7 linked regions of the Homo sapiens genome follow. The protein of the gene in region 5 purifies or fractionates together with the protein of the main gene of each other region. This does not show direct contact. Each region holds a gene or a part of one and is shown on either strand. Other genes may lie near its edges.

What was found.
Region 1: the proteins of TTC27 (region 5) and ARMH3 fractionate together in Homo sapiens (co-fractionation; one large-scale study listed by BioGRID). This does not show direct contact.
Region 2: the proteins of TTC27 (region 5) and RIC3 purify together in Homo sapiens (co-immunoprecipitation; one large-scale study listed by IntAct). This does not show direct contact.
Region 3: the proteins of TTC27 (region 5) and DNAJC12 purify together in Homo sapiens (affinity purification with mass spectrometry; one large-scale study listed by BioGRID and IntAct). This does not show direct contact.
Region 4: the proteins of TTC27 (region 5) and NMD3 fractionate together in Homo sapiens (co-fractionation; one large-scale study listed by BioGRID). This does not show direct contact.
Region 6: the proteins of TTC27 (region 5) and EAPP purify together in Homo sapiens (affinity purification with mass spectrometry; one large-scale study listed by BioGRID and IntAct). This does not show direct contact.
Region 7: the proteins of TTC27 (region 5) and GFPT1 fractionate together in Homo sapiens (co-fractionation; one large-scale study listed by BioGRID). This does not show direct contact.

The regions. Positions count from the first base shown.
Region 1 is NC_000010.11:102,045,537-102,050,188, forward strand, and holds part of ARMH3 (armadillo-like helical domain-containing protein 3), read right to left. Parts: intron 1-4,652. UniProt on the Homo sapiens protein: Involved in GBF1 recruitment, Golgi maintenance and protein secretion.
Region 2 is NC_000011.10:8,112,845-8,117,496, forward strand, and holds part of RIC3 (protein RIC-3 isoform a precursor), read right to left. Parts: intron 1-4,652. UniProt on the Homo sapiens protein: Molecular chaperone which facilitates proper subunit assembly and surface trafficking of alpha-7 (CHRNA7) and alpha-8 (CHRNA8) nicotinic acetylcholine receptors.
Region 3 is NC_000010.11:67,807,189-67,810,688, forward strand, and holds part of DNAJC12 (dnaJ homolog subfamily C member 12), read right to left. Parts: intron 1-3,500. UniProt on the Homo sapiens protein: Probable co-chaperone that participates in the proper folding of biopterin-dependent aromatic amino acid hydroxylases, which include phenylalanine-4-hydroxylase (PAH), tyrosine 3-monooxygenase (TH) and peripheral and neuronal tryptophan hydroxylases (TPH1 and TPH2).
Region 4 is NC_000003.12:161,241,811-161,246,462, forward strand, and holds part of NMD3 (60S ribosomal export protein NMD3), read left to right. Parts: intron 1-697; coding exon 698-843; intron 844-4,525; coding exon 4,526-4,638; intron 4,639-4,652. UniProt on the Homo sapiens protein: Acts as an adapter for the XPO1/CRM1-mediated export of the 60S ribosomal subunit.
Region 5 is NC_000002.12:32,812,658-32,817,309, forward strand, and holds part of TTC27 (tetratricopeptide repeat protein 27), read left to right. Parts: intron 1-4,652.
Region 6 is NC_000014.9:34,529,311-34,533,962, forward strand, and holds part of EAPP (E2F-associated phosphoprotein), read right to left. Parts: intron 4,230-4,652; coding exon 4,134-4,229; intron 166-4,133; coding exon 48-165; intron 1-47. UniProt on the Homo sapiens protein: May play an important role in the fine-tuning of both major E2F1 activities, the regulation of the cell-cycle and the induction of apoptosis. Promotes S-phase entry, and inhibits p14(ARP) expression.
Region 7 is NC_000002.12:69,376,827-69,381,478, forward strand, and holds part of GFPT1 (glutamine--fructose-6-phosphate aminotransferase [isomerizing] 1), read right to left. Parts: intron 1-4,652.

The sequences.
Region 1 (4,652 bases), on a different chromosome or scaffold from region 5:
TTGAATGCACTTGGCGTGTTCAGGAAACAGAAATGCCACCGTGCCTAAACAGAGCATAAACATTCCTTTTCTGAAATGTTTTTGTAAAGTTTATTAAAGTGGGTCTTTTGTGTTTGTGAATTTTTTTAATATATAAGAAGAATCCAAATATCCATCAGCAGTAAATGGGACAATTATGATACAGTCATACAATAGAATACCACATAGAAATTTACAAGAGCCTATTACTGATACATGAAGCAATGTGAGTAAGTTACATAGAAAATATTGAATGAGGGCCAGGCGCGGTGGCTCACACCTGTAATCCCAGCACTTTGGGAGGCCGAGGTAGGTGGATCACTTGAGGTTGGGAGTTCGAGACCAGCCTAACCAACATGGAGAAACCCCATCTCTACTAAAAATACAAAAATTAGACGGGCATGGTGGCGCATTCCTGTAATCCCAGCTACTCAGGAGGCTGAGGCAGGAGAATCGCTTGAAGTCAGGTGGAGGAGGTTACAGTGAGACGAGATCGCACCATTGCACTCCAGCCTGGGCAACAACAGTTAAACTCCATTTCAAAAAAAATAAAAATAAAATAACAACCAGAGTCTATTTAGCTCTTATTATGTACCAGGCACTGTTCTAAGCACTTTATATATATTAATTCATTTTATCCTCATATCAACCCTATGATCCAGAAAGTTTACAATGAGAAAACTAAAGCATGAACTGGAAAAGAAAGAGAGAAAAAGAGAGAAAGAGAGGGAGAGAGAGAAAGAAAGAGAGAAAGAGAGAAAAGAGAGAGAAAGAGAAAAGAGAAAAAGAAAAAAAAAAGAAAAAGAAAAGAAAAGATGGGCCAGACTGGTGGCTCATGCCTGTAATCCCAGCACTTTGGAGGCCGAGGCGGGCAGATCACCTGAGGTCAGGAGTTTGAGACCAGCCTGACCAACATGGAGAAACCCCATCTCTACTAAAAATACAAAATTAGCCGGGCATGGTAGCACATGCCTGTAATCTCAGCTACTCGAGAGGCTGAGACAGAAGAATCGCTTGAACCGAGGAGGCGGAGGTTGCAGTGAGCCGAGATTGCACCACTGCACTCCAGCCTGGGCAACGAATGAAACTCCATTTCAAAAAAAGAAAAATTGAAAAGAAAATAAACTTGTACAGATAAGTGAGTGTAGGGACTCAAACCCAGGCAGCCTGATATTAGAGTTCCTGTTCTTCTCCACTATGCTATACTGTATCTCAAAAGGCAGAGGAATGAGCAGGAGCAGAGTCATCTATACATAAACAAAGCTGAGGGCCTACAGAGAAACTGTGAAGAGGTTCTAGGTGAGTAAGGGGGAGTATGTACTCATGGGCTTTAATGAACAAACTGTGAAATGTCTAGATATCTTGAGTAGCCACCACTCTAGTTTGTCAGTGGATGAAGGTGCCATGGTAGAAAGTAAAAGATAATTGTCTGATGTAGATACATCTGTCTGTAAATGTAGGTAATAGTAAAGTGAAACAGACAGAAATAGACAAATTCACAGGAATGGCAGAAAACTTGGAGGGAAAAACAGGAGAAGAATCTGAGTGTCTAGTCAAGTTGATAGATGTATCCAACATGGTAATTTTTTTAAGGATAAAACACCCTAATGTCCACTACAGGATTTAATTGATTTTTTTTTAAACTCTCCCACTATCTTTGAGGATTTTTAATTTTTTTTCACTATTTTAATTGAGTATAGTCAGTGTTCTGAGGATAATTCTCCCTCAACTTTATAATGAATAGAAAGATACTATAAAACAGGACAGAAAAAAGAAATGGAAAACAAGTCAACTAAGAGTCTGTACAATCCTCAGCTTAGGAGGGAGTATGTTTTAATACTGATGAGCTGTGATCCCCTATTTCAGAATCTCCTGGGGTGCCTCCTAAATATGTAAATTCTTAAGCCTTCCTACCATTCTATTGAACCAAACTTTTTTTTTTTTTTTTGAGAGACAACCTCTCACTCTGTCACCCAGGCTGGGGTGCAGTGGCATGATCTCGGCTCACGGCAACCTCCGCATCCCAGGCTCAAGTGATCCTTCCACCTCAGCCTCCCAAGTAGCTGGGACTACAGGCACACACCACCACACCTGGCTAATTTTTGCATTTTTTTGTAGAAACGAGATTTCGCCATGTTGCCCAGGCTGGTCTCAAAACTCCTGAGCTCAAGTGATCTGCCCACTTGGCCTCCCAAAGTGCTGGGATTACAGGCATAAGCCACAGTGCCTAGCTTGGGTCTACATTTTTAACAATCACTCCAGATCAGTGATTCTCAACTGGTGCAATTTTGCCTCCCAGGGGACATTTGTCAATGTCTGGAGACATTTTTGATTGTCACAACTGGGAGAGGAGGTACTACTGGCACCTACTAGGTAGAGGCCAGGGATGCTGTTAAACATCATACAATACTCGAGGCAGCCTCCCACAACAAAGAATTATCCAGCCCAACATGTCAATATCAAAGAGGTTAAAAAGCCCTGCCCCAAGTAATTCTGATGACCATTAAAGTTTGAGAAGTACTCATCCCAGCCTTAAACCAGACTTGGAAAAGGAAGGAGTATCTAGACAGATGATACTGAGAGAATAAATGAAACCTCTGCAGTCTCTAAAAAGGGCGTTGAAGCAACACTCACCTTATCACATATCATTCTCCCCACATTAAATCACACTTCCTTTGGGACTGTAGCCCATTTCCCCATATGTGAAAGAAGATCACTACAAGACACACTGACTATAGTATCCACAATACTTAGTGATGGAGATGAAAATCTTATGTAGCTATCTGTCCAAGAGTTGTGGCTAAGTCAAAGAAAATATTACCATTATCTGACCATGAGCCATTCACCCAATATACAAAGGAGGCAACACGTTTTTGTTTTGTTTCATTTTGAGACAGTGTCTCACTGTGTCGCCCAGGCTGGAGTGCAATGGCACGATTTCAGTTCACTGCAACCTCCGCTTCCTGGGTTCCAGCAATTCTCCTGCCTCAGCCTCCCAAGTAGCTGGGACTACAGGCGCATGCCACCACACCCAGCTAATTTTAGTATTTTTTTGTAGAGTCAGGGCTTCACCAAGTTGGCCAGGCTGGTCTCGAACTCATCTTAAGTTATCCGCCTGCCTCAGCCTCCCAAAGTGCTGAGATTACAGGCATGAGCCACCGCACCCAGCTGAGACAACATGTTTATATCAAGCCAGCAATAGTCCCCTACCCTGACTTTCCAGTAAGTCTCCTGTCCTGATCTCCTAAAAATTCCCTAGTTTCTCTAGATACAGGGTTTTTTAAAAAACCTTTACGCAAAAGTTACCTGCTCCCTAAGCCTCTCTGCAGGACCTAACATACTACCTGGAGGTAAACATTAGCACTATAAGAACTTAAGGAGAATGCAGTTTTTCTATCTCCAAGCCCCAGCCCTTCAAGCTATCTCCTAATATGCCTCTCACTTTCTTTTTTTTTTTCCTTTGTGAAGAATGTGGGCATCATTCTTTCTTCTTTTCTAAAAGCCCCAGGTATTTAGCTCACTTGCTAGATCACATCCTACTGTTCCACATGGTTCCTTAGCACAGCTTCTTTCAGTAGCATGGGACAGGTTCCCCCACTTCCATCCAAAAGACTGGCTCTAAGACAAGCAAATAACCCCTTTCTATTTTAATGAATTTCTACTGCTAGTTCACTCCAAGGATTCTATAGATCCAAAATGAAAATAGGGCTGGCACGGTGGCTCACGCCTGTAATCCCAGTACTTTGGGAGGCTGAGGCGGGCGGATCACTTGAGGTCAGGAGTTCCAGACCAGCCTGGCCAACATGCAGAAACCCCGTCTCTACTAAAAATACAAAAATTAGCCACGCATCGTGGCAAGTGCCTGTAATCCCAGCTACTCAGGAGGCTGAGGCAGGAGAATTGCTTGAACCCAGGAGGCGGAGGTTGCAGTGAGCCAAGATCGCGCCACTGCACTCCAGCCTGGGGGATAGAGCGAGACTCTGTTTCCAAAAAAAAAGAAAGAAAGAAAATAGAGTAGGGCCTGCAACTTTTTTTTTTTTTTTTTGAGATAGGGTCTCAAGGCTGAAGTGCAGTGGCACAATCATGGCTCACTGCAGCCTCAGGGATCCTCTGACCTCAGCCTCCTGGGTAGCTGGGACTACAGGCACATGCCACCAGGCCTGGCTAACTTTTCATATTTTTTGTAGAGATTGAGTTTCACCATGTTGCCCAGGTTGGTCTCAAACTCCTGGGCTCAAGCAATCCTCCCACCTAGGCCCCCCAAAGTGCTAGAATTACAGGCATGAGCCACTGCACCCGGCCCCAACCTATTTTTACAATGAGGATATTACTTTGCCCAAAGTAACACAACTAGTAAGTGATAAAGCCATTAAATCTTTCTCTCTGGTAGCGCTTCTCCCTATCAGAATGTCCTGTTAGTGCAAAACATCAGGAGCTAACTAGACCATTAAAAACCAGATTCACTGTAATCCCAGCTACTCGGGAGTCTGAGGCACGAGAATCGCTTGAACCCGGGAGGCGGTGGTTGCAACGAGCTGAGATCGCGCCACTGTACTCCAGCCTGGGCGATAGAGCCAGACTCAGTCTCAAAAAATAAAAAAAATAGAGCCAGGCGCTGTGGCTCATGCCTGTAA
Region 2 (4,652 bases), on a different chromosome or scaffold from region 5:
TCTTAATATAAATCTATGTCCACTTCCCTAGTTCTTTAAGATAGACTTCTATAAATATGAAAACTAGACCAAAGGGAATGGACATTATAAAAGCCTTTTTTATACTGTGCCAAATTACTTTCCAGAAGAGTGGTATAAATTTTCAATCCTACCAGTGATATAAAGACTGTCCATCTTATGACACCCTCACCAGCACTCACAGTAGTATGTTAAGAATTTTGCCAATGCAGTCTTTATTCCAAGGCTTAACTTACTGCGGATGGAATGCTAGGTAAAGTGGAGCTTAGCTAACCCAAGACCCTCAGCCACCATGGTCAAGGATAGGATCTGGAGAAGCTGCTTGCTAGTCAGCTCCCAGCCACTGAATGCTTAAAAGAAGTCCATTTGCTGGCATGTCCCTGTCTTCCCACACTTAGAACAAAGCTTATCTTTGAATTTTCATGACTATCTGCTTTAAGAGGGAAGGTCACCCAGACTCAGGCTCTCAGCCTACCCCAACACCAGGCCTCAGTCCAGCTCTGCATCCCTAGTCATAATGCCTGCACCCACAGACCCAGCCTCCATGCTGGCCCCTGCAGATACAGACTCCGGGCCCACCCAGCATCAGGCCAGCAACTATGGCCCCAGAATCCAGTCCCACCCTAGGTTCCAGACAAAACCAGAGCCAGGTCTGCCCACATAGCCCAGTGCCAAATTGGCACCCCAATGGCACCCAAATTGGAGCCTGCAGACACAGGCTCCAGGCCTGCCCAGTGCCAGGCTAGTCTCTATGACCACCCCCACCTTCAGGTTGGCCCCTGCATTCCCACAATCCAGCAGACCCTGGGTCTAGCCCAACCCAGTAGACCCCAGCATTGGGCCGGCCCTCAGAACCCCAGGACTGCCCCTATGGACCTAGGTTCTAGGCTGAGGCCTGTGGCCCCAGGACCCAAGCCAGCCCTAATGAACCTAGCCTTCAGACACATCCATCAGACTCAGCCTCCAGGCCCATTTCAGTGGACCCGGGCACCAGGTTCATCCTAGCACCTGGCCAATCTCTGAAGACCCAGGCTCAAGGCCCAGTCCAGCCCCAGGTCAGCCCTTGTGGACCTAGGCTTTGGGATAGCCTCTCTGCACAAGATACAAGCACCAGGTCCATGCCTGAGGATCCAATCAACAGGTACACCCCAGTGGATCCAGGCTTCAACCCCAACCCCACGGACTCAACACCAGGCCACCCTGCCTAAGGACTCTACCAGCAAGTCTACCTGCAGATCACACCAAATGGCCTACCCAGAATCTCTGGGCAGGCTGACTGGTGAATGGCTTTTCCGGACAAAGCCAGAATGCAAAAACCATTCACCAGCAAAAGTCCCTGCTTCTTCAAATGCACAGATACCAATGCATAGCCATGAGGATCAAGAACAATCAAGGAAACATGTTGCCACCAATGAACAAAATAAAGCACCAGGAACAGACTCTAAAGAAATGAAGATACGGCCGGGCGTGATGGCTCACGCTTGTAATCTCACACACTTTAGGAGGCCAAGACAAATGGATCACCTGAGGTTAGGAGTTCAAAACCAACCTGGCCAACATGGTAAAATCCTATCTCTACTAAAAATACAAAAAATTAGCCGGGCGTGGTGGCAGGCGCCTGTAATTCCAGCTACTCAGGAGGCTGAGGCAGAAGAATCGCTTGAACCCAGGAGGCAGAGGTTCCAGTGAGCCAAGATCAAGCCATTGCACTCCAGCCTGGGCAACAAGAACAAAACTCCATCTCAAAAAAAAAAAAAGAAAGAAAGAAAGAAAAAGAAGACACATGAACTGCCTGACAAAGAATTCAAGATAACTGTTTTAAGGAAACTCAGCGAACTTCAAGAAAATACAGAGAAACAATTAAAGGAAACCAGGAAAACAATAAATAACTAAAACAAAAAATTTACGAGAGATTGAAATTATATTAAAAAAATCAAACAGAAATTCTACAGCTGAAAAATACGAGAATTGAAATGAAAAATGCAATAGAGAGTATCAACAGCAGAACTGATTGAGCAAAAGAATGAACCTTTGAATCTAAAGACAGATTATTTGACAATATACAGTTGGATGAGAAAAAAAGAATGAAAAGAAAGCAAGCTTATGGGATTTATGGGAACTGGAGTTCAAGAAGGAGGAGACGGACACAAAGGGATAGAAAGCTTAAAGAAATAATAGCAGAAAACTATACAAATCTGGGGAAAGTTATAAATATCTGGGTACAAGAAGGTCAAAAGTCTCCAATCAGACTGAACTCAAGTAAGACTATATCAAGAAGTATTATAATCAAACTATCAAAAATCAAAGACAGAGAGGATGCTGGAAGCAGCAAAAGAAAAAAAGTACATCACATTATAAGGGAGTTCTAACAGATTTATCAGCAGAAACCTTAAAGGCCAGAAAAGAGTGGGATAATATATTCAAAATGCTTACGGAAAACAAAAACAAAAACAAAAAAAAAAAAGGTCAACCAAGAATATTGTAGTTGGCAAAGCTCTCCTTCAGAAATGAGGAAAAAACAAAGACTCTGCCAGACAAAAGCTGAAGGAGCTTATCCCCACAAGATCTATCTTATAAAAAATGCTCAAGGGTGTTCTTCAAGTAGAGAGCAAGGGACACTATTCAGTAACACAAATATACATATATATATATATGAAAGTATAGGCTAGGTGCGGTGGCTAACGCCTGTAATCCCAGCACTTTGGGAGGCTGTGACAGGTGGATCACCTGAGGTCAGGAGTTCGAGACCAGCCTGACCAACATGGTGAAACTCCACCTCTACTAAAAATACAAAATTAGCTCGGCATGGTGGTGCATGCCTGTAATCCCAGCTACTTGGGAGGCTGAAATGAAAACTATAAAACATTGATGAAAGAAATTGAAGAAGACACAAATAAAATGAAAAGATGTCCCGTTTATGGATTGGAAGAATTGATACTGCTATAATGTCCATACTATACAAAGCAATCTACAGATTTAATACAATCCCTATCAAAATTTCAATGACAATTTTCACAGAAATAGAAGAAACAATTCTAAAATTCATATGGAACCACAAAAGACCCCAAATGGCCAAAGCAATTGTGAACAAAAAGAACAAAGCCAGAGGCATCACAGTACCTGATTCCCAAATCTACTACAAAGCTATAGTAATCAAAACAGTATGTTACTGGCATAAAAACAGACACACAGACTGATGGAACAGAATAAAAGCCCAGAAATAAATCCACATATTTATGGTCAATTTTTTTAAACAAAGATGCCAAAAAATAAAACACACACACACACAGGTCAAAGGACAAACACAAAAAGGTCAAAGGACAATCTCTTCAATAAATGGTGTGGGGAAACTAGATATCCACATGCAAAACAGTGAAATTAGACCCTCATCTCACACCTCACATTTACAAAAATCAACTCAAAATGCACTGAAGACTTAAACATAAGACCTGAAGCTGTAAAACTACTAGAAGAAAACCTAGGGAAAAAGCTCCATGACATTGGTCTGGACAATGATATTTTTGGATATGACACCAAAAGCCCATGCAACAAAAGTGAAAATAGACAAATGGGATTACTGAAAGTTTCTGTACAGCAAAGGAAACAACAGTAAAGAGACAATCTATGTAATGGGAGAAAATATTTGCAAACCATATATTTGATAATGGGTTAATATGCAAAATATATAAGGAACTCAACTCCACAGCAAAAGAAAACCCAATTTAAAAATGGGCAAAGGATATAAATAGACACTTCTCAAGAGAAGACAGAAAAATAGTCAACAGGCATATGAGAAAGTGCTCAACATCATTAAACATTCAAGAAATGAAAATTTAAACCACAATATCACCACATCTGTTAGAATGGCTATTATCAAAAAGACAAAAGGCAATAATAAGTGTCAGCAAGGATGTAGAGAAAAGGGAACCCTTATATACTATTGCTGGGAATGTAAACTAGTACAGTCACTATGGAAAACAGTATACTGGCTCCTCAACAAATTAAAAATAGAACTATCATATGATCCAGTAATCCCACTACTGGATATATATCCAAAAGATAAGAAATCAGTATGTCAAAAAGATATCTGCACTCCCATGTTCACTGCAGCATTATTCACAATAGCCACACTATAGCATCAATCTGAACATCCATGAATGGATGAATAAAGAAAATGTGGCACATATACACAACAGAATAGTACTTAGCATTTTTTTGTTTTTGGAGACGAGGTCTCACACTGTCACCCAGGCTGGAGTGCAGTGGCACAATCTCAGCTCACTGCAGTCTCCACCTCTTGGACTCATCTCAGCCTCCCACCTCAGCCTCCCAAGTTGCTGGGACTAGACACATGCCACCATGCCTAGCAAATTTTTGTATTTTGTGGAGACAGGGTTTCACCGTGTTGCCCAGGCTGGTCTTGAACTCCTAGGCTCAAGCAATCCACCTGCCTCGGCCTCCCAAAGTGTTGGGATTACAGGCGTGAGCCACCATACCTGGCCTACTGAGCTTTCAAAAAGGAAATCCTGTTATTTATGACAACCTAGATGAACTTGGAGGACATTATGTTAACTGAAATAAGCCAGGCACAGAAAGACAGATACAGCGTGATTTCACTTACATATGGAGTGTAA
Region 3 (3,500 bases), on a different chromosome or scaffold from region 5:
AGGCAGAGGTTGCAGTGAGCTGGTATCGCACCACTGCACTCCAGCCTGGGTGACAGAGCGAGATTCTGTCTCAAAAAAAAAAAGAAAATATTCAATTTTAAAAATTAGGCGAAGTTTCGATGCAAAAACATACAAGGTGGGAGATTCCTGGTGCCAACAATATGTGTGGGAAGGGAATAGTTACAGAGTAAACACTTCAAAACCATTTGCTAAATTGTAAATGCAAGTATTACCCATTTCTCTGTAGATTTTATTTCAAAATAAAAACGTTAATTTTTAAAAGAGGCAATGCCTCAGCTGGTATTAAAAAAAAAAATGACTTTTGTTTGGTTGGTTTAGGTTTGTTGTTTTGGTTTGGTTTTTGCATATGCACAAAATAAAAGAGGCTGCCAGTGACTTCCTCTGCAGAGGGAAAAGGATATTAGGAAGGTTAGTGAAAAACAAGGAATAAGACATTCAAGAATTCAGGGCCCAGAGAGCTGAAAATGTAAACTGTGAGCTTCACAAGCCAGCAAAGTGGCCTGTACGTGATGTATTGATCTCTGTGCCTCAGTACTTCTCTCTTGAAATCAAAGTACCTGTGGTCTGTCTTAGATAGGTTAGGATTAATGTCTAATCCACAGTAAATGCTTTAAAGGTCCTCAGTGAAAAGATGTTCTGAAATAGTAGTCTTATCCATCTCCTTTGTGAGTAAATCAGAATAAAATATGTTATCAGACTCCCATATCTGCTGATCCTCATTAAAGAAATATACAGAAGAAATATCCAAACTGTATCTAACCTTAGATACAAGTGCTTCTCACGCTTTGTAGTTCAATCAAAGGACTAACATCAGAGTGATGCTAAGCAGCCTGGTTTGCTGGGACACAGTTAGATAGTCTGCAAATCACTCATTTCTGTGTTCACAAGCATATTTCTCAACTCCACAAGGGTATTAGTTGCACAGAACAACATTTAACATCAAGCGAACTAGTCTATTATGCAGCTACTCATTTCAGTAGAATCAGCATCAATAAAAGATATCAAATGACAGCAATTGATACAGACTAAGAGAGAGACTAGAAAGGGGAGAGTCTACAGCAAGATAATAAAATGCACAAGACAGAAAATCTATATATGCATGGAAGGAACTAACGCTAAACAGACAGCAAGCCTAGGTGCAAAGGCCACTAATCTTAACAGTCTGTGAAATTTCTATGTTGTTATTCTGCCTTCACAATTAACTTGTTTACTAGCTTTCTTGAACGAGTTGGTTTTTTTTCTCTAGGAAGTCATTTTCTTACATTCTAGACCTTGGTCAATACTAGGAAATAGTGCTCGTCTCAGCAGCACATATACCAAAATTGGAATGATACAAAGAAAATGATCATGGTCCCTGTGCAAAGACAACAGGCACGTTCGCGAAGCATTCCATTAAAACACACACACACACACACAAACACACAGGGAAATAAAAAATTTTGTTTACATGCCAGTAAACATTGGCACAACATTTTTTTAAATCCATGGACTCAGATGAGCCATAGATCAGCTGAATAGCTATACAAAATTGACTGGTTATTATTATCCTGGATCAGTGATCACCATGAGTGGATTTTTCACTTATCAGGGTGATTTCTGACCTGCTTTTGGATAACATCCAATTAAGACAGATTGCCTTTTGAACCAGCAGAAGGTGTTGAATTGCATACTGTTTCCCATCTGGCTGGTGAAACTGTGGCCATGTGGGCATAGTGTAGGAAGCTTTCTGGATAGGTAGTCTATGGCCAGTTGAACCCACCCCAAAGACACCTTGCCCAGCTGGGAACCCAGAAACAATCAGCAGACAAATAGGTCCACACGAGGCTGACCCAACAAGCCCTCCCAGAGGCAATCAATTTGTCAAATGATCAATTCACCAAAAATGTGTTTCTATTAACTCTTTATAAAATTTACAGCAATTGAAGTGGCATAAGATAGTTTTAACGGCTTATGAGAATTTTTTTTAGCCATTCATTTTGACTGTGCCTTTGCTGTGGCTTCTTTTTCCCATAGGCATCCTAAATCCATGCTGCCATATATTTTGGTGCTAGAGGGAGAGCCATCCACACCCTGGGTCTCTTTGGGTAAAACCATTTAGCATGACAAAGATACATTTCCCTAAGATTCTCTGGAATCCTGGGATAACTCTTCAGGTTATCCCAGGATCCCAAAGGCCTGAATTACTGAATCCTCACTCCAAACCTTTTTTTTCAAACCAATACTACATGTCTAAATTTAAATCGCCAACATATTCATTGACCTGGGTGAGGTCTTAAAATATTTTTACCAATTAAACTAGCAGGAGGAACTTCTAGAAAACAAAAAGAAATAAATAAGTAGGTAGTAAAGTGACAGACTTAGTGTAGGGAAAAAATACCAGTTCAGTTGCATCACTCCTGGATGATAGAAATGTGGTGGATATATACACCATGGAATATTACTCAGCCCTAAAAAAGAGCAAAATAATATCTTTTGCAGCAACTTAGATGGACCTGGAGGCCATTGTTCTAAGTGAAGTAACTTAGGAATGGAAAACCAAATATTGTATGTTCTCCATTATAAATGGGAGCTAAGCTACGGATACACAAAAGCATACAGAGTGGTATAATATAATGGACTTTGGAGACTCAAAGTGGGAGGCTGGGACGGAGAGTGAAGGATAAAAAACTACATAATGGGTACAATGTATACTACTCAGGTGATGGGTGCGCTAAAATTTCAGACTTCACCACCATACAATTCATCCATGTGTCTAAAAACCACTTGTATTAGTCCATTTCACACTGCTGTAAAGAACTACCTGAGACTCAGTAATTTATGACGAAAAGAGGTTTAATTGACTCACAGTTCCTCAGGCTTAACAGAAAGCATGACTGGGAGGCCTCAGGAAACTTACAATCATGGCGGAAGGTGAAGGGGAAGAAAGGGCCTTCTTCTCATGGTGGCAGGAAAGAGAGAGAAGGTAGAACTGCCACATACTTTTAAACCATCAGATCTCATGAGAACTCACTATCATGAGAAAAGCAAGGGGGAAATCTGCCCCCATGATCCAATCACCTCCCATCAGGACCCTCATCCAATTCAACATGAGATTTGGGCAGGACACAAATCCAAACCATATCAACACTTGTACCCCAAAAGCTATTGAAAATTTTTTGAAGTTTTTAATTTAAAAAAATGTGGCACCCCTGAGGCTGTGGCTCGTTTGAGGAATTCTCCCAAAGGAAATTCCCAAGATATGATCCTGTGTGTGATGCTACAAAAGTACACCGTGATTTGTCCTGCCTTGTGGGTATAGGGACTAATAATGTTCCCAAACAATGCTTTTCCGTTCCAGAGGGATTATACTATTTAAACAAAAAGCAGAAACACAGGGTTGATGGTGTGAAGGAAAGGGAATTTATGAGATTTAACAATCTAGCCAGGTGCGATGGCTCATGCCTGCAATCCCAGCACTTTGGGAGGCCGAGGTCTTTTAT
Region 4 (4,652 bases), on a different chromosome or scaffold from region 5:
GAACATTTGGCTTTTTGTGGCCCATTGGAACATTTAGTTTGAATATGAATTTTAACCAATTTTGTTATTACTGTAGATCATTTTTTAACATTGTCTATAGAATAAATTATTTTTTAAGGAAGACCACATTTTGGTAGGTATCTTAGTATTTGGATGTATCTTCTGCTTGATCTTTTTCATGTATTTTCTGTAATATAAGTTTCCTTTATACAAAAAGTGAGTTTATTTTGATATTTTTCAAAGTCATTCATTATCTTTATCAGTTAGGATTCATAAGTTAAAGATCTGTTAGCAATATTGGGATGGACATTCTTTACCTATCTGGTAGAACTAGGCTTTATTTCCCATAAACTAAGCAGCTAAGGTGACAGATACGTTTCTAAAATAAAGTGCCAGCACGTGAAACAGCTGTACCACTGATTGGCTCTGATCTTACTTAAGAGGCACTTAGCCCTGTGGCATTCTGGTTATAGTAACTATTTAAGATATGTTTGACATCTGATATATTTTTCTTGTGCTTTGAGAAGTTTGGGATTGGTTTATAGGAGTAATTGATGACCCTAAGGAGTGAGTTGACACTAGTTCTGTTGACCTGCCACTTCCCAGTTGGTATCTACCAGTTTATTCTTAGTTAATACATTTGATAATTGAAATATATAATTTTTCTTATGTTTTTGTGTTCTATCCTTATTTTTAGTGGCAGATATTGATGGGAGCACTTTCTGGAGTCACCCTTTCAATAGTTTATGTCATCCCAAACAGCTAGAGGAGTTTATTGTGATGGAATGCAGCATAGTCCAAGATATAAAACGTGCTGCAGGTGCTGGAATGATATCAAAAAAGGTAAGCTACATCCTGCCTGCCAGTGTATTTTTTTTTCCCCTCAGTTATTATTGTTTCAGTCCCTCTTTTAAAAAAAATTTGTTGGTGTTTCCACAGTATGGAATCCAAACTTAGCACCACATTAGGAAAAAAATTCTTTTTTTTTTTGTCTTTTTAATATGTGGTCATTGTGGAAATTGTTAGACTTAGACTGTTAAGTTAATTTATTCTCTTTTGTGTAGGAAAAATCTTTTAAATGTTTATTCCATTATATTTAAAAAAGGCATTTCTTTGCTTTATTTTTATAGAGGAGGACCTTTATTTTTGTAGTGGTTATCTTGACTTTTAAAAAGTCATCACCAAATACTAAATACTTCAGTGTGCATCTCTCACACACAGGAATATTTTTCTACATAATGAAAATGTTGTTACCATACCTATAAAACATACAGTCTACACAGTATTCTGCTCTTATCCATGGGGATACATTCCAAGACCCCCAGTGGATTTTTGAAACAACCCACAATAGTACCAAACTCTATGTGTATTGTTTTTTCCTATACATACATACCTATGATAGAGTTTAATTTATAAATTAGGCACAGTAAGAGATTAACAATAATTAATAATAAAATAGACCAATTATAATAATATACTGTAATAAAAGTTGTGTGAATGTAGTCTCTTTCTTAAAGTTATCTAATTCTACTCCACCAACCTGTTTTTGGATAGCGATTAACTGTGGGCAGATGAAAACTTTGAAAGGGAAACTATGGATAAGGGGGGGATTACTGTGTTCAGATTTCCTCATTTGTCCCAAAAGTGTCTTTTATGCCTTGTTCAAACAGGTATTCAATTGGAGACCACTCATTAAATGGGAATATTATACCTTTTTAGTCTTTTATTTAATAATAGTCCCCTTCTTTTTTCTTTTATTGGTTATGATACCAACTTCCTTAGACAACTAGTGCATTTATCTTGTAGAATACTCCACCTTCTAAATCTATCTAATTGTTTCCTCATGATGCCATTTAACTAGCTTCTTAATTCATTGTGTTTCCTCTAAACTGGAAAGTTGATCTAAAGGTTTGGTTACATTTAGGTTAAATTTTTCTTGCCAGAATATTTCAGAGATGATGCCATGTACTTTTTATTATATCAAGAGACAAGTAATGTCTGACTGTTTCACTTGTTAACATAGTGATAGTCAGATTCCTCCATTGTAATGTTATGATTTTTTTTCCTTCTGACCAGCAAGCAATCTGTGGCTTAATACTATAATAATATGCAAGTACTGAGTTCCTGTTACCTCTTTTTTTTTCTGGCTTTAGCATCTGTTGATAATTCTTGCCCATAAATTAATTATTTTATTCAGGGTTACAAAATGGTGAATTTTCTATTTCTATTCTACATTTACTAGCTGTCATTCTTAAAGAAGAGCTTTTCATTATTAACTAGGGGTTATGTAGCTTTCCTGAAATGCTCGCCTGCATACATTCTTTTAATTAATTAATTTTAGACATGATCTTGCCGTGTTGTTTGGGCTGGAGTGCGGTATGGCTTCATAGCTCACTGCAGCCTCAAACTCCTGGGCTCAAATGATCCTCCTGCCTCAGCCTCCTGAGTAGCTGGGACCACAAGTATGTGCCACCATGCCCAGCTAATTTTTTAATTTCTTTGTAGAGATGGGGTCTCCATGTTACTCAGGCTGGTCTTGAACTCCTGAGCTCAAGCAATCCTCCTGCCTTGGCCTCCCAAAGTGTTGGGATTACAGGCGTGAGCCACCTCCCCTGGCCTATGCATAAATTATTAATTCTTTTAGCAAATATTTTTAGAGTAAAGAGTTGATCTAGGAATCATTTCCAGTGGTGAAAATTAGCTTACATGTACAGGTGGTGTCTCTCTTTGTGATTATCATTGTGATCTCCTGAAGTATAAGTATTGTATCATTTACTGTATTTTCTTTTGTTTTCTTCTTCTCTCCTCCTCTCCCTTCATTTCTTTTCCTTTTTTTTTTTTTTTTTTAAAGAGACAAGGTCTCACTCTGTCTCTCAGAGCTGGAGTTCAATGGTATGATCATAGGTCACTGGAACCTTGAGGTTGTGTGCTCCAGTGATCTTACCACCTCAGCATGCTGCCACACCTGTCTCATTTCTATTTTTTAATTTTTTGTAGAGTCAATCTCACTGTTTTTTCAGGCTTGTCTCAAACGATCCTACTGCCTCCCTTATAGGAATGAGCATGAGCGCCTGCCCTTTCTTTTTTTTGAAATCCTCATATTGCCCTAAATTTATTCAATGGGAGCCCCTTCAGAATGGTTCCTATGTTGTTTTGACGTGACTCTCCTGGTCTTTGAAAGCATCCTTGATTTCTGGTGCAACACAGCATTCAGGTGTTCCAGAATCACATGTATAGTTTATAACCCATATCTGAAATCAAATGTTTCTTCAAAGATGAAAGTCTGGCTTCTTTTACTGTGAAATAGTATCTAGAGACTCCCAGGGTACCCTTGTGTGTGTGTGTGTGTGTGCGTGCTAATAATGCTTCTTGAGACAAAAATAACTTGTGATAATTTGGGAAAAATTAATGGAAATGGAAGACAGATGACATTCTACATTTTATTTATAAATTAAGGTAATGTACTTAGGGCAAACTTTTCATTTATAATAAATGTAGAGTATCATTTCCCTTCAGGCAGATATAAAACCAGATACTGTATTTTCTTGGTTTTTAAAAAATAGCTAGAAGAGGTTAATAAATTTCTTACAAGCAGAAGTCTAATAGCTAGAAAGTAAATCCTGTTAAATAAAATGTAGTCTCCCTGTTAATTGACTTTTCTTTTGCAGTTCTTAAGTTTGAGACTTGTCTTTTATTTCAGTTTCTCCTTCTGCTCTATTTCTTTTCATTTTTTTCATTTCTTTTTCTTTGACCAACTGCAATAAGAAACACTTGATTCTTTTCATAACTTTATTTTGAGATTCCTTAATTTTATTTATAACTCTTAGTATTTTTCTCTCGATCTCACTTCAGTTGGTCTGTCTTTGTTGTTAAAGGTGTTGGCATGTTAGAAAGGGAATTAATAGTTTTCTAGTTTAAAAATTGGGATGTTGTTTCTGCTATATATATATTATATATAGCAGATGTACTATATTATATATAGCAGATGTAGAGAATGATTGTAGTCTACACTAGTAGATACTTTAAAAATTAATTTGATAAAGATTTGGCCTCTCTAGTGGTTTACTACCAGGATTTCTAGGCTGTTTTGTCTGGACCCTGATTTTCTGAACCCTTGTGTCAAGCAAGAGTTTGCTTGGAATACGTTCTTGCTTTAAGATTCCCCTACCTTTTCAGTTATTTTGTTCACTCTGCCTATGTTGGCCCATCTTCCTGTGAAAACATTTCTTTTGAAAATTCTACATATATATATTTTTAGGGACATTATTAATGTTTTATAAAAGTCTTGAATAAAATCTTAGAAAAAGTCAATGATTTATTTTTATGAATTGTTTGTGAGTCTTTCTATACTCATGATTCAGTAATTTGTTAATTTTGACAGTGTTTCATACATCAGAAAAATACAAAAAATTTTCTGTCTTTAAAAATTAGAAAACCAAAAATCAATATTGTATTTAACTTTTCTCTGAGATGCTTTTAGAGTTATGTTTAGATTATTGAAGAGTACATTTTCTTTCCTCTTAAGCATACCCTCGGGGAAGTCTGGGTACAGAAGACATCTGAAATGAATACAGATAAACAGTATTTTTGTCGTACTCATTTGGGACATCTTCTAAATCCCGGAGACCTGGTGTTAGGGTTTGTATTATTTC
Region 5 (4,652 bases):
ATTTTCTACTGACAGAAAAGAGTGTTGGTCAAAAGTAAAGTTCCATTATAAATAGTATCAAATTATTTCATTATATTGACATTGTTGTATTTAATTCAGCAAACATTCATAGACCACCTACTATGTAATAGGCATTTTGAAATAAGAAGAAGAAACAGGATAGAGGCTTATATTCTGTTGGAGTAAGTAACAGAAATTGGAAACTTTTTTAGAGATGTGAAACATCTTTACAACTTTGTATAACCTTCATTCCACACTGAGTTTCACTGTATTGATTACATAGCATTAAGGAAATCTGTTAATTTTAACTTGACTCACACATAGATCTCTGGGGTACATAGCAGTATGCAGAGCTGTAGCATATACAAAAGAAATATAAAATAAAAGCCTTATCTTTGGGAAATGGTAGAGGATATTGTTTGAGGAAAGGTTTAACCTTACATATAAAATTATATGCCTGTTGGGTAAATATAGTCCAAATAAGCATTGCTTTTAGTTATTAATTTTTAAAAATGCCAGTTAAATTTGGTAATGCATTTTTATATTTATATTTGAATATGGGTGTGTGATGCAGTTCCAATAAAATAATGATGCCCCCAATGTTAAGAACTGAATCACAAAGACCTTACACCAATCCTAAAGTTCTCCTTCTACTTCCCTGCCTAACTAACTTCCTTGCTGCCACTAATAATTACAACAAATAGGGAGCAAACAAGGAAGAATGCAAAGGGCAGAGCTTTAAGATCAGGGAGACCTAAGCTCCAGGACCAGCTCTATCACATGCTTGCTAGTTGACCTTGGGTAAATAATTTAACTTCTCTGAGCCTTACTTTCCTCATCAGTAAAATGGGATAATACCTACCCATGAAGAATAAATGAAAACATTCAAACACTTAGCAGTATTTCACACATGGTTTAGATATTAATACCCTACCCTCTCACCACCACCCTCTTCCTTCCAAAGTAGAGGACTTGAGCTATAGATGATAAGGGACTCAAAACTAAAAAAACAAAAATTAAGAACAAGGATAAAGTTTGGCTTGCTTATAAAGAAGTCACAGAACATTCAGAAAATTTAGAAATTAGCTTGGTAGTTGATAATTCTACTTTTGACCTTTGATATCTTTGACCTAAAGGATATAAATATCTAATTTCCTGGGTCACCAAGCACTTGGCAGAGAAGGTAGAAGTGCTGAGCTCTATATAGCTGAAAGTCAATGTAGAAAAGTTGGGGGTAATTGCTAATAGAGCCGTAGAAGGATGTTTTGGGGGTGGTTAGAATTCATGTGGCTTCTACTGACCTCATGATGGGTGGGCTCAGTTGGGATCCAGTCCTTATGCTTTTGGTCTTTGTGGATATTGTATGATATTTGGGGAAACCCACACTGATGTATTAGGTACATAATTAGCAGGATGGGATTTACTTTGAAAAATTTATCTTATCTACTTCAACTTGCCAACTCTAAGCATTTCTATGAACTGCTCGTCTGTAACAGTCAAAGCCACGCTATTTTCTGAACTCACCAAGTAATGGTATTAAACCTGTCAAAGAGAGATATGCAGGTTAAAGAGATACTCTAGGAAAAATCTTTATTTTGCATCTTAAAGTTGGGTTTAAACTGTTATTGGCATTATTTTCTTCATCAGGGCAATACTTGGAGAAAAACAAGTGTCCATTCTTTTAAGTTCTCCTCTGACATCATTGAATTATGTGTTCATGCTCCTACAACATTTTAAGCGTATTTGAGTGGATGCCCAGCTTTCGTTTCTGATGATATTTTAGATTTACAAAGATAAATCTTAATCATTTCCTTGTTACTTTTGTACCTTAGTGCAGAAAGAATAAGCTGGATTTCTCTGTGTATGAGTCTCTTCAAAACATTGTTCCTCCACCCCACCCAATTATAAAAAGGAAATACAATCAAGCATCCCATAGCAACATTTTGGTCACCAGTGGACCCACATATATGACAGTGGCCCCATAATATTGTAAAACCATATTTTTACTGTACCTTCCCAATGTTTAGATAGACAAATACTTACCATTGTGTTCTGATTGCCTGCAGTGTTCAGTACAGTCACATGCTGTACAGGGTTGTAGCCTAGGAGTAGTAGGCTATATACCATGTAGCTAGGTGCATAGTAGGCTATACCATCTAGGTTTGTGTAAGTACACCCTATGATGTTCTCACAACAACAAAATTGCCTCACCACACATTTCTTACACCGTATCCCCATCATTAAGTGATGCATGACTGAATAACATTTTTAAAAATCTCCACATGGTTTACTCCTTGGGTTGCTATCATTAAGGTAGCCATGCACTTCAGAAAGCTTGATAAGATATTGCGACCTTGACATAGTATTTGAGGCCTCCCTATAACAATGTCATCATTGTGTGCTCATTTGTATTGTCTGGAAGGTATACATTTATAGTTTCTGCTATTTGATTTTCTGGGAAAGGGTGGGCTAAAGTGTTTCAGCTCTTTGCCATCCAGGAGTTTTTAAAATAAGAGTTAATGCATTTTAACTGCAGTTTACATAGAGGAGGCACTGCTGCTTCAGATTTTTTTTTTTTTTTTTTTTTTTTTTTTTTTGAGACGGAGTCTTGCTCTGTCGCCCAGGCTGGAGTGCAGTGGCGCGATCTCGGCTCACTGCAAGCTTCGCCTCCCAGGTTCACGCCATTCTCCTGCCTCAGCCTCCCAAGCCAGCTGGGACTACAGGCGCCCACCACCACGCCCGGCTAATTTTTTGTATTTTTAATAGAGACAGGGTTTCACCGTGTTAGCCAGAATGGTCTCAATCTCCTTACCTTGTGATCCGCCCGCCTCAGCCTCCCAAAGTGCTGGCAGATTTTCTGATGATTTGAAACAGCAAGTTATTTCTCTCCCTCTAGCTGTCTGTCTCTATCTCAGTCTATAATGCCTTTTGGAAATGGGATTGAGTAGGAAAACTAATAGAGTATATCTGTCTTTTTGCTTTACTTTTGTTTTTGTCAGAATGAAAATAAGGGATTAAAAAAGAAATACAGCAGTTTCTGATCTAAACTGCTGGGTACTAAACAGCTCAAATACCGCTGCCATGGTGGTTACAACTTTCCTCTACTAAGAGAAACAGATTAATAATCCCCGCTATCTCTGGGCTAACTCTGCCTTTTGAAAATGGGCTTAACATTGCTAATTATTATGCATCCTCTCACCCTTTAATGAGAAATGTCAAAGTCTAATTATTATTCCTCATTATTACTCTAAGATAGGAATGTCAAACCTAGTTCTTGCTGGCCTTGGAAGATATTAATTAATGACAGAACTCTGTTTTGCCAGGCACAGGCAGCCTCTACCGATTGATTAGTCTTTGCGTGCAAAAAGAAATCTATTGGGCTGGGTATGGTGTCTCATGCCTGTAATTGGGAGGCTGAGGTGGGTGGATCACTTGAGCCCAGGAGTTCAATATCAGCCTGAGCAACATAGTGAGACCCCATCTCTACCAAAAAATTAAAAAATTAAAACATTAGCTGGTTGTGGTGACATGCACCTGTGGTCCCAGCTACTTGAGAGGCTGAGGTAGGAGAATCACTTGAATCCTGCAGGTTGAGGCTGCAGTGAGCCATGATTGTGTCACTGCACTCCAGCCTCGGTGACAGAGCGAGACCTTGTCTCAAAAAAAAAAAAAAATTGATTTTCTATCCTTGGTCTACAATCTAGAGTATAAAGTAGACTTTAATCCTTGCGCTGTTTAGTGTCATTTTAAAGGAGTATCTGATTATTGGTCTGTTTGAATTTAGTGAGCATAATTTAGGGAACAAAACCAAGAACAAGCCAGTGGGGAAATATTGGGCATTATGTTTGTACAAAGCTCTTCACTCGTTCTCATAAAGCATTAATAGCCAGGCCTTCTACCAGGAAGAACGATGCCTTCTTCGTAGTTTCAGGTTTTGGGAAAATGAGTTCCCCAGAATGCTGGGAGCAGAGTTGTGATTCACTCTTGCCCATTCCCTGCTGATGCCAAGCCTTGCTCAGGAACTTAAGAACCTGGTTGTGGTCGCGTTCTCTACATGAAGACACATGGGTTGCTGTCAGTGCTTCCTGAATGGTGCTTCAAACCCTGATTATGAAAATGCAGTAAGAATTGAGCTGTACAGATCTGGCATGTCACTTCCTTGGGCTTGTGTCATCAGCAGTTGTGAAGTCCCCATTGGGGACTTGGTAGCATGGAAAGCCACACAAAGATGTGCTGCATCTGTTTTTGTCTGTGTGGGTACTTTGTTTTCAATAATATTTTGTCTCCTTGCCTAATTTTATTTGTCTATGCACATGTGTGCGTGTGTGTGCTCGAATGCATGCGTGTATATGTGTTTAGGGTCTCTTCCCAGTGATCCGTAACTCACCAAAAATCACCTGTTTTTCCCAAAATTCCCTGGAGCAGTAAATTACCATTCTTAAAGAAGGATAGAGAAAGGCCAGGTGCAATGGCTGACACCTGTAATCTCAGTGCTTTGGGAGGCTGCAGCAGGAGACTAGCTTGAGGCCAGTAGTTCAAGGCTGTATGCCACACCTCCAGACTGAGCGACAGGGTGAGACCCTGTATCTTAAAAAAAAAAAAGAAGAAGAAGAAGAAGAAGGATAAAGGGAAAAGCTATGTACATAATTATT
Region 6 (4,652 bases), on a different chromosome or scaffold from region 5:
TCAATCTTTTTTTCTAAAGATTCTAAATATTAACTTTAAGTTCTTACCCCCTTCTCTGTGCATCAACCCAGGCCTGATCTCTGTTATCTTTTTCAGGATCATACAGTAATTCGTCATTTGTTGGAATCTTGTGTTGTTTCTTCTTTTTTTTCTTGGTCACCTGTACTAATTTTGAAAATATTAGGATATGGCTAAGAATCATGTGTCAAGTTCACACTTCTTTAAATGAAGAGTCTCATTTCCCAAGCTACACATTTATTTATATTTTCCCTAAAAAGTTAAAAAAGGGACGGGCGCAGTGGCTCACACCTGTAATCCTAGCACTTTGGGAGGCCAAGGTGGGTGGATCACCTGACGTCAGGAGATCGAGACCAGCCTGGACAACATGGCGAAACCCCGTCTCTACTAAAAATACAAAATTAGGGCCAGGTGCGGTGGCTCACGCCTGTAATCCCAGCACTTTGGGAGACCAAGGTGGGCAGATCACCTGAGGTCAGGAGTTCGAGACCAGCCTGGCCAACATGGTGAAACCGCCTCTCTACTAAAAATATAAAAATTAGCTGGGCATGGTAGTAGGCACCTGTAATCCCAGCTACTTGGGGGCCTGAGGCAGAAAAACTGCTTGAACCCAGGAGGCAGAGGTTGCAGTGAGCCGAAATCGTGCCACTGCACTCCAGCCTGGGTGATGAGAGCGAGACTCCGTTTCAAAGAAAAAGAAAATAATAAAATAAAATACAAAATTAGCCAGGCGTGGTGGCAGGCACCTACAATCCCAGCTACCTGGGAGGCTGAGGCAGGAGAATCACTTGAACCCAGGCGGTGGAGGGTGTGGTGAGCCGAGATCACGCCATTGCACTCCAGCCTGGGCAACAAGAGCAAAACTCCGTCTCAAAAAAAAAAAGTTAAAAAAAACCCTTCATCTAAACAAGTGCTTGTCCAGGTAGGGTGCGGTAGCTCACAACCTATAATCCTAGAGCTTTGAGGGGCTGAGACAAGAGGATCGCTTGAGGCCAGGAGTTCAAGACCAGCCTGGCCAGCATAATGAGACCCCATCTCTACAAAAATAAAAATTAAAAATTAGCCAGGCACACCTGTAGTCCTAGCTACTAGGGAAGCTGAGCTGGGAGGATGGCTTGAGCCTAGGAGTCTGAGGATGTAGTGAGCTATAATTGCACCACTGCACTGCTGGAGACTGGGTAAGAGTGAGACCTATCTCTAAAAAAGTAAAAAATTTAACAAAAATTTAAAAAATAAAGTTCTTCTCCAACTAATAAGGCATTAAAATGACAGAGGAGGCAAAAATTGTTTATTTACCCAAAACTGGTATCTCAAGGACTAAGTTCAAACAATGAGAATTCAGAGACTCAAAAGAGCCACTCAAAACAAGCCAAGAATAGAAATTATTTATGATGTATGAATATATATATAAAATGCTACTAAAATTAGAACAAAAATATTTCAAAAGTGAATTAAAAAAAACAGTATGAGGTCAGATACAGTGGCTCACATCTGTAATACCAGCACTTTGGGAGGATTGCTTGAAGCCAGGAATTTGACACCAGCCTAAGCAACAAAGCAAGACCCAATCTTTACCAAAAAAAAAAAAAAAAAAAAAAGAAAGAAAGAAAGGAAGAGGAAAAAAACAAAAAAAAAGAGAAAAAAAAAAACTATGGCCATCTACATACACTAGACTTTTTGAATGTATTCTAGCAGGCAGGGAGTGGTGGCTCATGCCTGTAATCCCAGAACTTTGGGAGGCCAAAGTGGGCAGACAACCTGAGATCAGGAGTTTCAAACCAGCATGACCAACATGGCGAAATCCTGTCTCTTCTAAAAATACAAAAAGTAACCGGGTATGGTAGCTTGTGCCTGTAGTCCCAACTACCAGGAAGGCTGAGGCACCAGAATCGCTTGAACCCAGGAGGCAGAGGCTACAGTGAGCCAAGACTGTGTCACCGCACTCCAGCCTGGGTGACAGAGTGGGACTCTGCCTAAAAAATAAATAAACAAGGCTGGGCGCGGTGGCTCATGCCTGTAATCCCAGCATTTTGGAAGCCTGAGGCGGGCGGATCACGAGGTCAGGAGATCGAGACCATCCTGGCTAACACAGTGAAACCCCATCTCTACTAAGAATGCAAAAATTTAGCCGGGCGTGGTGACGGGCACCTGTAGTCCCAGCTACTCAGCAGGCTGAGGCAGGAGAATGGTGTGAACCCAGGAGGCAGAGCTTGCAGTGAGCTGAGATGACGCCACTGCACTCCAGCCTGGGCGATAGAGCGAGACTTTGTCTCAAAATAAATAAATAAATAAACAAACACATACATTCTAACAGGTCAATATTTAAGTAACAATGCATAAAAGTATAATATTGTTCTTTACCACAGAAATTTGCTATTTGAATATTTCATTGTAATTACTGAAATAATTAGTTTTAGCTCTTGTTATGTTCAACTTTGCTCAAATTTTATAAAAATTCAATTTTCAGGCCGGGCACAGTAGCTCACGCCTGTAATCCCAACACTTTGGGAGGCCGAGGTGGGTGGATCACAAGGTCAGGAGATCAAGACCATCCTGGCTAACACAGTGAAACCCCTTCTCTACTAAAAATACAAAAAATTAGCCGGGTGTGGTGGCGGGCGCCTGTAGTCCCAGCTACTCGGGAGGCTGAGGCAGGAGGATGGCGTGAACCCAGGAGGCAGAGCTTGCAGTGAGCTGAGATTGCGCCACTGCACTCCAGCCTGGGTGACAGAGCGAGACTCCGTCTCAAAAAAAAAAAAAAAGAAAGAAAGAAAGAAAGAAAAATTCAATTTTGAACATAGAGGCTGATTAAAAATCAACGCATTAAGAAAAATTCTGCAGGAGGAGGCCAGGCCGCGGTGGCTCACACCAGTAATCCCGGCACTTTGGGAGGCTGAGGCGGGTGGATCACCTGAGGTCAGGAGTTCAAGACCAGCCTGGCTAACATGGTGAAACCCCGTTTCTCCTAAAAAAACAAAAAATTAGCCAGGCATGGCGACAGGCGTCTGTAAACCCAGCTACTCAAGAGGCTGAGGCAGGAAAATTGCTTGAACCCGGGAGGCACAGGTTGCAGTGAACCAAGATGGTGGTGCCATCGCACTCCAGCTTGGGCAACAAGAGCGAAACTCCATCTCAAAAAAAAAAAAATTCTGCAGGAGGATTAAAACATAGAAACTATTTTCAGGCATGAAAACAAATATTGCTACTATAGGAAACCTAAAGGAAGAGGGGGGAAAAGCCCTGAGGAGGGGAGGTATTGAGTTGGGACACACTCTCTCTCACTCCCTAGGTACATCCAAGCAGCACCACTGTTGGTGCCATGTCCTCACATGCCTGTGTCCCCAGCTTTTTTTTTTTTTTTTTTGAGACGGAGTCTCACTCTGTTGCCCAGGCTGGAGTGCAATGATGCGATCTCAGCTCACTGCAACCTCTACCTCCCTGGTTCAAGCAACTTCCCTGTCTCATCCTCCTGAGTAGCCGGGATTACAGGTGCATGGCACCAAGCCTGGCTAATTTTTTTGTATTTTTAATAGACATGGGGTTTCACCATGTTGGCAAGACTGGTCTAGAACTCCTGACCTCAGGCAATCTGCCCACCTCTGCCTCCCAAAGTGCTGGGATTACAAGCGTGAGCCACCATGCCCAGCCCCCAGTTTTTCTTATTAATCAATCCTGCTTTTGTTTTCACATCAATGGCATCCACTTTATTTATTTATTTATTTATTTGAGACAGTCTCACTCTGTCGCCCAGGCTGGAGTGCAATGGTGCAATCTCAGCTCACTGCAACCTCCGCCTCCTGGGTTCAACTGATTCTCTTGCCTCAGCCTCCCAAGTAGCTGGGACTACAGGCGTGCACCACCATGCCCGGCTTATTTTTGTATTTTTAGTACAGATGGGGTTTCACCAAGTTGGTCAGGCTGGTCTTAAACTCCCAACCTCAGGTGATCTGCCTGCATCAGCCTCCCAAAGTGCTGCCATTACAGGTGTGAGCCACCATGCCTAGCTGTAATTTCTTAAAAGACCAAACTCAGAGGGAAATCCTAACATCTAATAATTGTTAGGTAAACCTTTTTTATAAAATATAACTGCTAAACCTGGTAAATAGGTTACTTACCTGCTCTGTCTTCATCCTCGGAATCAGAATCAAAATATATATCATCGTAGTACCTTGTCGGAGCTGTTGCAACTTTTCCATTTCCTGAGGAAGATCCTATTCAAACCAGAAGTAAAGTTTACAGACTAAATCATACATAATTCACAAGGCAAAAAACTCCATATATTCTTCCATCACCTCAAAACAATATCAACTCATTCACAAACTCATTTGATGGTGAAATATTTTCACATCAGTGAATTACTCGATGTCTATGCCCTATACAGTTACAGAGAACTGGCCCTCCTTAAAATGTTCCAAATCTTGAGAAAATTCTTCTCTCTCCCTTCCCACAAATCTCATTAAATAAAATAGCGATATTTTCAGGTTGCCAGCACACATATCTCTACCTTTCAGTCATACAGTATACCATGCAGAACATAGAACAAACATTTTGTTCTAAGAAACATTAGGAGAAAAAGGGTAAGAACCCTATAGGAAGGCAGGAGGAATGAGTCAAGGACACATTCTTCTCCTCAG
Region 7 (4,652 bases), about 37 Mb from region 5:
TTAAAGATGTATATGAATGTGTTAAAACTATTTAAATGCTAATGATATAAAATTGTTTTTAAGACAATTTATAGACTCTACTTTTTTTTAAAGATTAATGCGGCAGGGCTGGGTGGCTCACGCCTGTAATCCCAGCAACTTGGAGGCCAAGGCGAGTGGATCACATGAGGTAAGGAGTTCAAGACCAGCCTGGGCAACACGCTGAAACTCCGTCTCCACAAAAATACCAAAATTAGCCAGGCATGATGGCAGGTGCCTGCAATCGCAGCTACTCAGGCGGCTGAAGCAGGAGAATTGCTTGAACCTGGGAGGCAGAGGTTGCAGTGAGCTGAGATCGTGCCACTGCACTCTAGCCTGGGCAACAGAGCAAGACTCCGTCTCAAAAAAAAAAAAAAAAAAAAGATTAAGTAATGCAATATTAAATTCACTGTTTTTAATAATGTAACTCAACAACAGCATTCAACTTTAATAATACTTCTAACTCCAATCTCCTTGGTTTATAATGGCTCACTATATGAATCTTGAGAGCTTAAGAACATTTTGGCTGGGCACAGTGGCTCACACCTGTAATCCCGACACTTTGGGAGGCCGAGGCGGGCGGATCACGAGGTCAGGAGTTCAAGACCAGCCTAACCAACATGGTGAAACCCCGTCTCTACTAAAAATAAAAATAAAAAAAAAAAAATAGCCAGCTGTGGTGGCACGTGCCTGTAGTCTCAGCTACTCGGGAGGCTGAGGCACGAGAATAGCTTGAACCTGGGAGGCAGAGGTTGCAGTGAACCTAGACTGCACCACTGCACTCCAGCCTGGGCAACAGAGCAAGACTCCGTCTCAAAAAAACAAACAAAGAAACAAACAAAAAAGTAACAGAGCTAGAAGAAGGAAGGGGATTAGCCTCAGACATACCTGATGAGGAAAATGGGAGCTAAGAAGTTGAACCTGTCAGTTTCATAGCCCTGTCCCTTGATAGCACTACTAGCCCAAGACATTCCACCTGCGGGGATACCGGGTTAACTGTAATCTTGGGGTGCCCGAGACAATACTGGCAGCAATTCATCAGGTACACAGGGCATGTTCACAAGGGAGGCATTCACAACTCACAATGATGCTTGTTAGAGCAGAAATCGTTAGTCTGACCTCTATTTTCAGGTCTTTGACTTGTCTTATCAAAACTCCCAATAAACAGTTTTTTGTTTTTTGTTTTTTTGAAACAGAGTCTCGCTTTGTCGCCAAGGCTGGCGCCATCTCAGCTCACTGCAACCTCCACCTCCCAGGTTCCAGCAATTCTCCTGCCTCAGCCTCCCAAGTAGCTGGAATTACAGTGGCCGCCGCCATGCCCGGCTAATTTTTTGTATTTTTAGTAGAGATGGGGTTTCGCCATGTTGGCTAGGCTGGTCTCGAACTCCTGACCTCAGGTGATCCACTCGCCTCAGCCTCCCAAAGTGCTAGGATTACAGGCATAAGCCACTGCACCCGGCCTAAACTCCCAATAAACAGTTCTTAAGTAAGGTAATGACAAAAGCCTAATATCAACTTTCCGCCACTCTTCAGTAATTGCTCTAAGAGCACACACAGTAGCTGTATAAGCATAGATTCTCTACCCCCAAATCAGCATGCACTTCACAAGTGTAAGCTTTCTTACTAATGGAATATACTTGGAATAAAATAACTCCATAACTGAAGCAGATGCTTGAACCTACAGGCATCATTCTCAATAAATGGCAACTTAAATTCAATGACAAAAAAGCAATTATGAGCACCTTGCTAACAAAATTTCAGAAGCAATCTGGATCACAGACTAGACACACCTGGTTGAAAGCAATGTAGCTGCAAATACAGACTGTTAAACCTTACTGAAAAGAAAACTGACTCGTCAAATTATTAAAATTCCTATGTCTGGTTGCATTTATGTCCTTATGAATACTAAATTTTATTTTTATATATTTTATCATTTGACAGCTGCAATATTTTGGGACCCTAAACATTGTAACTTATCAGTGATAAGTGTTCAAATTCATTCTCTAAACTTAAAACTTCTGAATCAAAATCTACCTACAATGTCACTTAAACTCTAAATTTTATTTTTCTTATAATGCTAGTCACAAATTAATTCATCACCATCATTAAAAATTCAAAGTAGGCCAGGAGCAGTGGCTCACATCTGTAATCCCAGCACTGTGGGAAGAGAGGCAGAGGTTACTTGAGCTCAGGAGTTCGAAACCAGCCAGGGCAACATACCAAGACCCTGTCTCTATTAAAATTTGAAATAAATAAATAAATATTAAAACTATACAGATGCTACAGAATTGTGAAAATCTCTCCTTTCTGTCTCCACACAGGTTCCAACCCCTTTCTCAGAGATAACTACTGTTATTCCCATACACACACTCCCAGTCCTTCAGCTATAAATTTTTCTACAGGCCAGGCACAGTAGCAGATACCTGTAATCCCAGCACTTTCGTAGGCCAAGGCGGGAGGATCATGGGCAGGAGTTTGAGATCAGCCTGGGCAATACAGGGAGACCCTGCCTCTACCAAAAATAAAAAATTAGGCATGGTGGTGCATGCCTGTAGTCCCAGATACTTGGAAGGCTGAGGTGAGAGAATCACTTGAGCCCAGGGGTTCAAGGTTGCAGTGAACTAGTCAATATTATAATTATGGAATCACATTCTACATTTAAGATTTCTTTAAAATTAAGTATTATTTGAGATACATTTTCTTTTTTCTTTTCACCAGGGGTCTGCTCTGTCGCCCAGGCTGGAGTACAGTGGCACAATCCCAGCTCATTAAAACCACCACCTCCTGGACTCAAGTGATCCCCTCATCTCAGCCTCCCAAGTAGCTGGGACCACAGGCACATGCTAATGTGCCTGTAATTTATTTATTTATTTACTTATTTATTTTTAATTTTTGAGATGGAGTTTTGCTCTTGTCGCCAAGGCTGGAGTATAGTGATGCGATCTTGGCTCACTGCAACCTGTCTCCCAGGTTCAAGCAATTCTCCTGCCTCAGCCTCTGGAGTAGCTGGGATTACAGACGTAAGCTACCACGCCCAGTTATTTTTTTATTTCTTGTAGAAATGAGGTCTTACTACATTGCCCAGGCTGGTCTCGAACTCCTGGACTCAAGCGATCCTCTTGTTTCGGCCTCCCAAAGTGCTGGGATTACAGGCATGAGCCAATGCATCCAGCCAAGGTACATCTTCTACAATCCTAAAAGCACATATAAAGGCCAGATGCCGTGGCTCACGCCTGTAATCCCAGCAATTTGGGAGGCTGAGGAGGGTGGATCACTTGAGGTCAGGAGTTCGAGATCAGCCTGGCCAACATGGTGAAACCCCGTCTCCATTAAAAATACAAAATTCCTAGCCAGGCATGGTGACGCGTGCCTGTCCCAGCTACTCAGGAGGCTGAGGCAGAAGAATCACTTGAGCCCAGGAGGTGGGGCAGAGGGTGAAGTGGGCCGAGATTGCGCCACTGCACTCCAGGCTGGGCGACACAGTGAGACTCTGTCTCAAAAAAATAAAAAATGTAAAAGTAAAATAAAATAAATCACACATACAAAAATAACATATGGAGTGAAACAATTAAGACTTTCAATTATTTGTGTGTTTAATTGGTTCATGTCTCCCCTACTTTACTGTAACTATTGCCACTAGAAGGGGCTCCATGACACGTCTCTTGCACATTTAACATTCTGGAGCTCAAATCACTAGTTAAGTCATGACATCTCTATACATTCCCTCACAGTCAACCTATGTCATCATCTTTCTTGAGAAAAAAAAGCATGTACTTCCTGCTCACAATCTTCAAATATTCCATCTCTCTCTCTTCTGACCATTCACATCAGACTACAATTTTTCATCATACTGCCAAGTCAAACCCTCTGGGTCCACTGTGCTCTGACTCCTAGTCTCTGAGCATCTCTACACTGAACTATGACAGCCAAGGAGAACTCATCTATCCTATCCATTTCGGTCCACTTTCGGATGGGCCCTCCGAACTGCTGACCAATCCTATTAATTCATCACTTGCTTAACTTTCAAACTTCTCCCAGATATTATTTTAGAGTCTAAGCTACATACTACTCTCAAATCCTCATTTTCTCTTCCCAGCTTCTTTTTCATTTTTGGTAGATTCTTACTTTATAGAATTAAAGTCTTTTTTTTTTTTAGACAGAGTCTCGTTCTGTCACCCAGGCTGGAGGGCAGTGGCGCTATCTCAGCTCACTGCAACCTCCACCTCCTGAGTTCAAGCGATTCTCCCGCCTCAGCCTCTTGAGCAGCAGCTGGGATTACAGGCGTGTGTTACCACGCCTGGCTAATTTTTGTATTTTTAGCAGTGACAGGGTTTCACCACGCTGGCCAGGCTGGTCTCGAACTCCTGACCTCAGGTGATCTGCCCGCCTCGGCCTCCCAAAGTGCTGGGATTATAGGCGTGAGCCACTGCGCCTGGCCAGAATTAAAGTCTTCATTTTCTTTTTTTGTTTTTAAAATATAGAGACAAGGTCTCAATATGCTGTCCGGGCTGGTATCAAACTCCAAGCCTCAAGTGATCCTCCCACCTCAGCCTCCCAAAATGCTGAGTTCACAAGCATGAGTCACTGCCCCTCACCCATCTTCTTTTCAACAGTTTAACAATATATAAATACTT